Linked DNA regions of Homo sapiens. The protein of the gene in region 2 interacts with the protein of the main gene of each other region in a pairwise test. Each region holds a gene or a part of one and is shown on either strand. Other genes may lie near its edges.

The links. Proteins that work in one complex are often made in the same cells at the same time.
Region 1: the proteins of ZNF792 (region 2) and ZNF639 interact in binary tests that used the Homo sapiens proteins (3 or more experiments, as listed by UniProt).

What each region holds. Positions count from the first base shown.
Region 1 is NC_000003.12:179,329,531-179,333,030, forward strand, and holds part of ZNF639 (zinc finger protein 639), read left to right. Parts: intron 1-87; coding exon 88-198; intron 199-3,458; coding exon 3,459-3,500. UniProt on the Homo sapiens protein: Binds DNA and may function as a transcriptional repressor.
Region 2 is NC_000019.10:34,955,854-34,958,541, reverse strand, and holds the end of ZNF792 (zinc finger protein 792), read left to right. Parts: coding exon 1-586; 3' UTR 587-2,188; downstream 2,189-2,688. UniProt on the Homo sapiens protein: May be involved in transcriptional regulation.

The sequences.
Region 1 (3,500 bases), on a different chromosome or scaffold from region 2:
GAACATTTGTATAAGTTAGATAACGGGAAGTTTCTCATTAAATATGTATGTTTACTGTACTTGAAATATTTTTCATTTTATGTTCAGATTCCTCTGGAATAAGCAGAATTGCAGATGGATTCAATGGAATTTTCTCTGATCATTGTTACAGTGTCTGTTCTATGAGACAGCCAGATTTAAAATATTTTGACAACAAAGGTATATCTAATATTTTCGAAAATATGTTTCTTTAAACTGCTTTTACATTTTTTATTCCTTACTTGAAAATGTGGGTAAAATGTGGATTGATGATTTCAAAACAGACAAGTCTTTGAAATTTGTTACAATGTAAGAAAACAAAGTTGTATTTTTTTAAGAAAGCAAGTAATTTTAACTATTCTTTTTTTTTTTTTTTTTTTTTGAGATGGAGTCTCGCTTTGTCGCCCAGGCTGGAGTGCAGCAGCGCGATCTTGGCTCACTGCAACCTCCGCCTCCCAGGTTCAAGCAATTCTCCTGCCTTAGCTTCCTGAGTAGCTGGGGTTACAGGTGTGCGCCACCACGCTCAACTAATTTTTGTACTTTTAGTAGAGACAGGGTTTCACCATGTTGGTCAGGCTGGTCTCAAATTCCTGACCTCATGATCCGCCCACCTTGGCCTCCAAAAGTGCTGGGATTACAGGCTTGAGCCACCGTGCCCGGCTGTAATTTTAACTTTTAACATTATTTCTGACATATAAATAAAAAAGTGCACTCTCCTAAGTCCATTTTTTGAAGGGGGTGGGGTTAGGGGGAGACAGTCTTCATTCTGTCACCCATGCAGCCATGTCTCACTCCATGGATTATGGCTGACTGCATTCTTGACCTCTTGAGCTAAAGCAATCCTCCCACTCAGCCTTTTGAGTAGCTGGGACTACAGGCATGCACCACGATGCCTGGCTAATTTTTAAAAATTTTTTTGTAAAGACAGGGTCTTGCTGTGTTGCCCAGGCTGGTCTTGAACTCCTGGCCTCAAGCAGTCCTCCCATGTTGGCCTCACAGAGTGCTGAGATTGCAGGTGTGAGCCACGGCTCTCAGCCCTAAATCCACTTTAGTTGGTTAGGAATTGGTGGCAATGCAGGAGTGACTCAGAGTTGGAGTATTTATGTTGAAAGGTTAAGAATAGTGTTAGACACAGTTCTACTCAGCTATACCACATAGTGTGGAAGAAAAGAACAGAGGGTGATTTGGTATTTTTCAATGTTGGATCTTCTATTGGTTCCTCTGTTCTACAGCATTGGTGAATGATAACAATTTACAACTTGCACTTAAGTTAGAGAGTTAGAGACATCGGTATGAATTCCTGTTTAGCTTACTATAGATTCAGATGGCTACATACAGAATGCTTGTAGATATGTGTGTGTATATATATGTGGTACTGTACACACACACTTTGCTGTGTTAGCTGAGAGGGGCTAAAAGAAATGACACCCAGAAGCAGTGAGCATGAGCACATTCAGTGCCCAGCTCTTGGTTTCTAATGCCTCCTTGGGAAAATGGCTGATTCTAGGTCTGGGGCAGGAAATATACAAGATGAACCTGGAGCATTTTGTAGTGCTGGAAAATAGGAAAGTACTTAAAAAAACCTAAACACACGCACTTGACAGGGGTATGCCAAAGGGGCACACGTCAACTTAAAGAGCTCCCAACAGCCAAAACTGAAAACTATTTGGGGACAAAAAATTATAACCCAGAGTATAAAATAAATATCCATGAATTCATGCTGTTATAAATTATTAAATAGAGGAGATGAGGCAAATCTGTGCAGAAAAATTCCAAATTATTAGACTTCATCTTAGCCAAAAGGCCAAGAAGCAGTAAAACTCCAAATTATTTATGTAGCTACTCCTCCCTCTAGGAGGTGGAATATAAGTCTGCACTCCTTAAGCATGGTCTGCACATAGTGACTTCTTACAAAAGGTAAAGTATGGAAAGTAAAAGCACAACTTTAGGCCAGGTGCGGTGGCTCACGCCTGTAATCCCAGCACTTTGGGAGGCTGAGGCAGGCAGATCACCTGAGGTCAGGAGTTTGAGACCAGCCTCAACATGGAGAGACCCTGTCTCTACTAAAAATACAAAATTAGCTGGGCGTGGTGGTGCGTGCCTGTAATCCCAGCTACTCGGGAGGCTGAGGCAGGAGAATTGCTTGAACCTGGGAGGCGGAGGTTGTGGTGAGCCGAGATCGCGCCATTGCACTGCAGCCTGGGCAACAAGAGCGAAACTCCATCTCAAAAAAAAAAAAAAAAAAAAAGACAACTTTATAGTGTTGAAACCTGATAGAGACTTAGCCAGGTGATCAAGATCAACATCAACAACCATAAATCATATTGATAGTATGTACCCTTGATAAGAAGTGATGAAAATGGCAATTTACCTCTGGTCTATCTCCCAGTAATCCATAATTCCAGCGTAATCATTTTAAAAAAAAGAAAGCAGACAAATTCCATTAGCAAGGCATCCTACAGAATACCTGATTAGTACTCCTCAAGGAGTGAGAAACTGCCACAGCCAACAATAGCATAGAGAGACATGGCACCTTAATGGAATGTGGTATCCTGGAACAGAAAAGGGACATTAGGTTAAAAACTAAGGGCATTTAGATGACTTTATTGACTTTTATTAATAAGTTACCAGTATTGGTCATTAATTGTAACAAATGTGCCACACTAATGTTAGATGTTAGTAGTGGAGAAACTGGGATACATGGGACCTCTCCATACTATCCTCTCAGATTTTTCTGTAATTCTAAAACTATTCTAAAAAATAAGGTCTATTTTAAGAAAACATGATGGATGGGCTGAGTGTGGTGGCTCACGCCTGTAATCCCAGGTCTTTGGGAGGCCAAGGTGGGAGGATCGCTTGAGGCCAGGAGTTCAAGGCCAGCCTGGACAACATAGCAAGACCCCATCTCAAAAAACAAGAATTACCCGGGCTTGGTGGTGCATGTCTGTAGTCCTATCTACTCAGGAGGCTGAGGCTGAAGGATCACTTGAGCCCAGGAGTTTGAGGCTGCAGTGAGTGAGCCATGATCATGCCAGTGTACTCCAGCCTTGGCAGACTGAGCAAAACTTGGTCCCTCGCAAAATGTTGAAGCCCAGTTTTCACTATTAACCTGTATTTCAGTTTCCCCATGCTAACTTTGAAACACTGGGGCTGGCCTGAGGGTATAAAGGCTTATTCAAACTCAGTAATTTAAACTTAAAATCCTAAGGAACTTCAAAAAGTGTAATCTAGTCCAAATGGGGCATCAATTCTAAAGCATTTGCTTGTTTGAGCAGATTTTCTGTGTCTGAGGTATATAGATAACTTATCTTTTTATGACTAAATCCAAGTCCTTAGTTCCTGTTGGAATTCAAAATCATATTTAAAAATTGATGCTTTGTTCTATAATTAATGCTTTGATTGTATAAATAATAAGTATTCTTCCAAATCCCTTTTTACAGATGATGATTCTGATACCGAGACGTCAAATGACTTGCCAAAAT
Region 2 (2,688 bases):
TCAACATCAGATAGTTCACACTGGCGAGCGGCCTCACGGGTGTGGTGAGTGTGGGAAAGCCTTCAGCCGAAGCTCTGACCTCATGAAACATCAGCGAGTTCACACTGGTGAGCGGCCTTATGAATGCAATGAATGTGGGAAGTTATTTAGCCAGAGCTCCAGCCTCAATAGCCATCGGAGACTTCACACTGGTGAACGGCCTTACCAGTGCAGTGAATGTGGGAAATTCTTTAACCAAAGCTCCAGCCTCAATAACCACCGGAGACTTCACACCGGCGAGCGGCCTTATGAGTGCAGCGAATGTGGGAAAACCTTCAGGCAGAGGTCCAATCTGAGGCAGCACCTGAAAGTTCACAAACCAGACAGGCCTTACGAATGCAGCGAATGTGGGAAAGCCTTCAACCAAAGGCCTACCCTCATTCGGCATCAGAAGATTCACATCAGAGAAAGGAGCATGGAGAATGTGCTCCTTCCCTGTTCACAGCACACACCAGAGATAAGCTCTGAGAACAGACCTTATCAGGGCGCTGTCAACTACAAGTTGAAACTTGTTCATCCAAGTACCCACCCTGGGGAGGTTCCCTAGGAATGCTAGCTGTGTTGGAAGCTTTCTGGAGACAAGTTACATTCTCTTACTGTAGAGTTTATCAGCGTTTTTTCACTGCTGGGGTTGTGATAGAAGCCATGTCAGCACCACACACTGCAGCTCTCCAAAGAGTGTGTCCACCACTCCACTGTGCTCAGGGAAGGCAGACCTCTCCTCTCTCTTTCCAATCCCTAAAGGGAATTAGGAGTAGTCTGAAGCCTTGGGAAGATGTCATTCCCGCCCTGTATGGCTGGTTTAGCCATGGACATGACCAGCTTTTGGCTGTGAAGACCTGAGCAGGGTTTTGCCAACAGCTTGTTCTAGAGAAGGTTTCCCTTTTTCTGGGACATTGTTGGTCTCATGTTATGCCTGTGAAGGATTTGTCCAGCCTTCATGTTACTCTACACAACAACTTATCTCCTGTGTATTGCCCTGGTTCATGTGATGATAATGGCCTTATGATAAAGCCGCCTTTAGTCTTCCATGTTCTGATCACTGTGTGGGGTGGTTCAAGAGCAGAGTTAAGATCTACCAAACTGAAGGGGTCTCCAGATTATCTTGGAGGGGACAGGAGGATGGCAGAGAAACAACTGTCAATCCAGATTTGACCTCATTTGCATTGCCACCAAGGCCTCCTAGGAAAAATTGTAGGAATTTATGGGTATAATATTGTGGTCTGAATGGCGTGAATTTTTATCCCGAGGAGGGGGCAGTTGTGACAACCTCCAGTGCATGTGGGAACAGCATGAATTGGGTCCCTTATTCCCAGGGGGTGCCCCATATTCCCCAATACTGTAAAGCAGATGCTGTTTAGCACCTGCCAAGGAGCCATATGCCCTGAAGTTCAGCATTAGGCAGGTATCTCTTAACTGTAAGACATACCAGGCCCAGCTGGGACCATAATTTGTACAGAAACACTGGATGTGATTAATAGGGAGTAGGCGAGATTATAGCAAACCAGCAGAAATGGAACTCTGCTAAATGTGCATCCGTGAATGCTCCCTTGAATGTGGCTGTGCAGGATTCAGGGTTTGCAGAAATTCTCAGGACCTCAGACCTCTGTCCTATGACTAATGTTACTGGCAGAGCAAATAATCTAAAGGTTTTGGTTTTGTGGATTACCATCTCCGTGCTGTGCATCTGAAGGCCAGTGCTGTGCTGGCAGGAAAATAGGGACTGAGAAAAAGCAGATCCTATACTATAGGGACTGTAGTATCTATGACGTAGCCAGCCATTCTTTGCTCCCAAGGCAAGAAGAAAGAGATGACAGAGTCAATATAGGGTTGCCAAATCGGATTTTCTAAAATGAGTAGGAAGTTGGATTTTTATGTGCAACAGTTTCTTTTAATGCTTTGTTGATATGTGATTGTCATGCAATAATTATTCATATTTGGTAAGTTTTGTACATATATTATGTACACTCAGGGAACCAATACCATAATCATGATAATGAACGTATCCATCACCTGCAAAGCTACCTCATGCCCCTTTACATTCCCTCCTTGCCTTCCCTAGGAAACCGTTGATTTACATTTTTTACTTTAGATTTGTTTGCCTTTTCTAGAATTAACACAATTGGAATCATAAAGTATTTATACTCTCTTTTGGTCTGGTTTCTTTCATGCAGCATAATTATCTTGAGAATCATCCATGCTGTGTGTATATATAGTTCATTCCTTTTACTACTGAGTAGTGCTATACTGGGTGAGTGCACCATAGTTTTTTATGGTTTATTTAAAAATGTTAAAAAAATCTGATGAAATATACTTAACATGAAATTTACTATCCTAACCATTTTTAGTGTATACTTCAATGGTATTAAGTAGATTCGTATTGTTATGTAACCATCACCACCATTCGTCTCCAGAACTCTTCAATCTTGCAAAACTGAAATTCTGTACCTGTCAAGCAATAACTTCCCATTTTCCCTTCCCCAGCCCCTCAAAACCACCATTCTACTTCCTGTCTGTATGAATTTGACCACTCTAGGTACCTCATATAAGTAGAATAATAAGTATTTGTCTTTTTGTAGCTAGCTTATTTCACACTTAGCATAATATTCTCAAGGTTCATCAATGTTGGAGCATATGTCAGAATTTCCT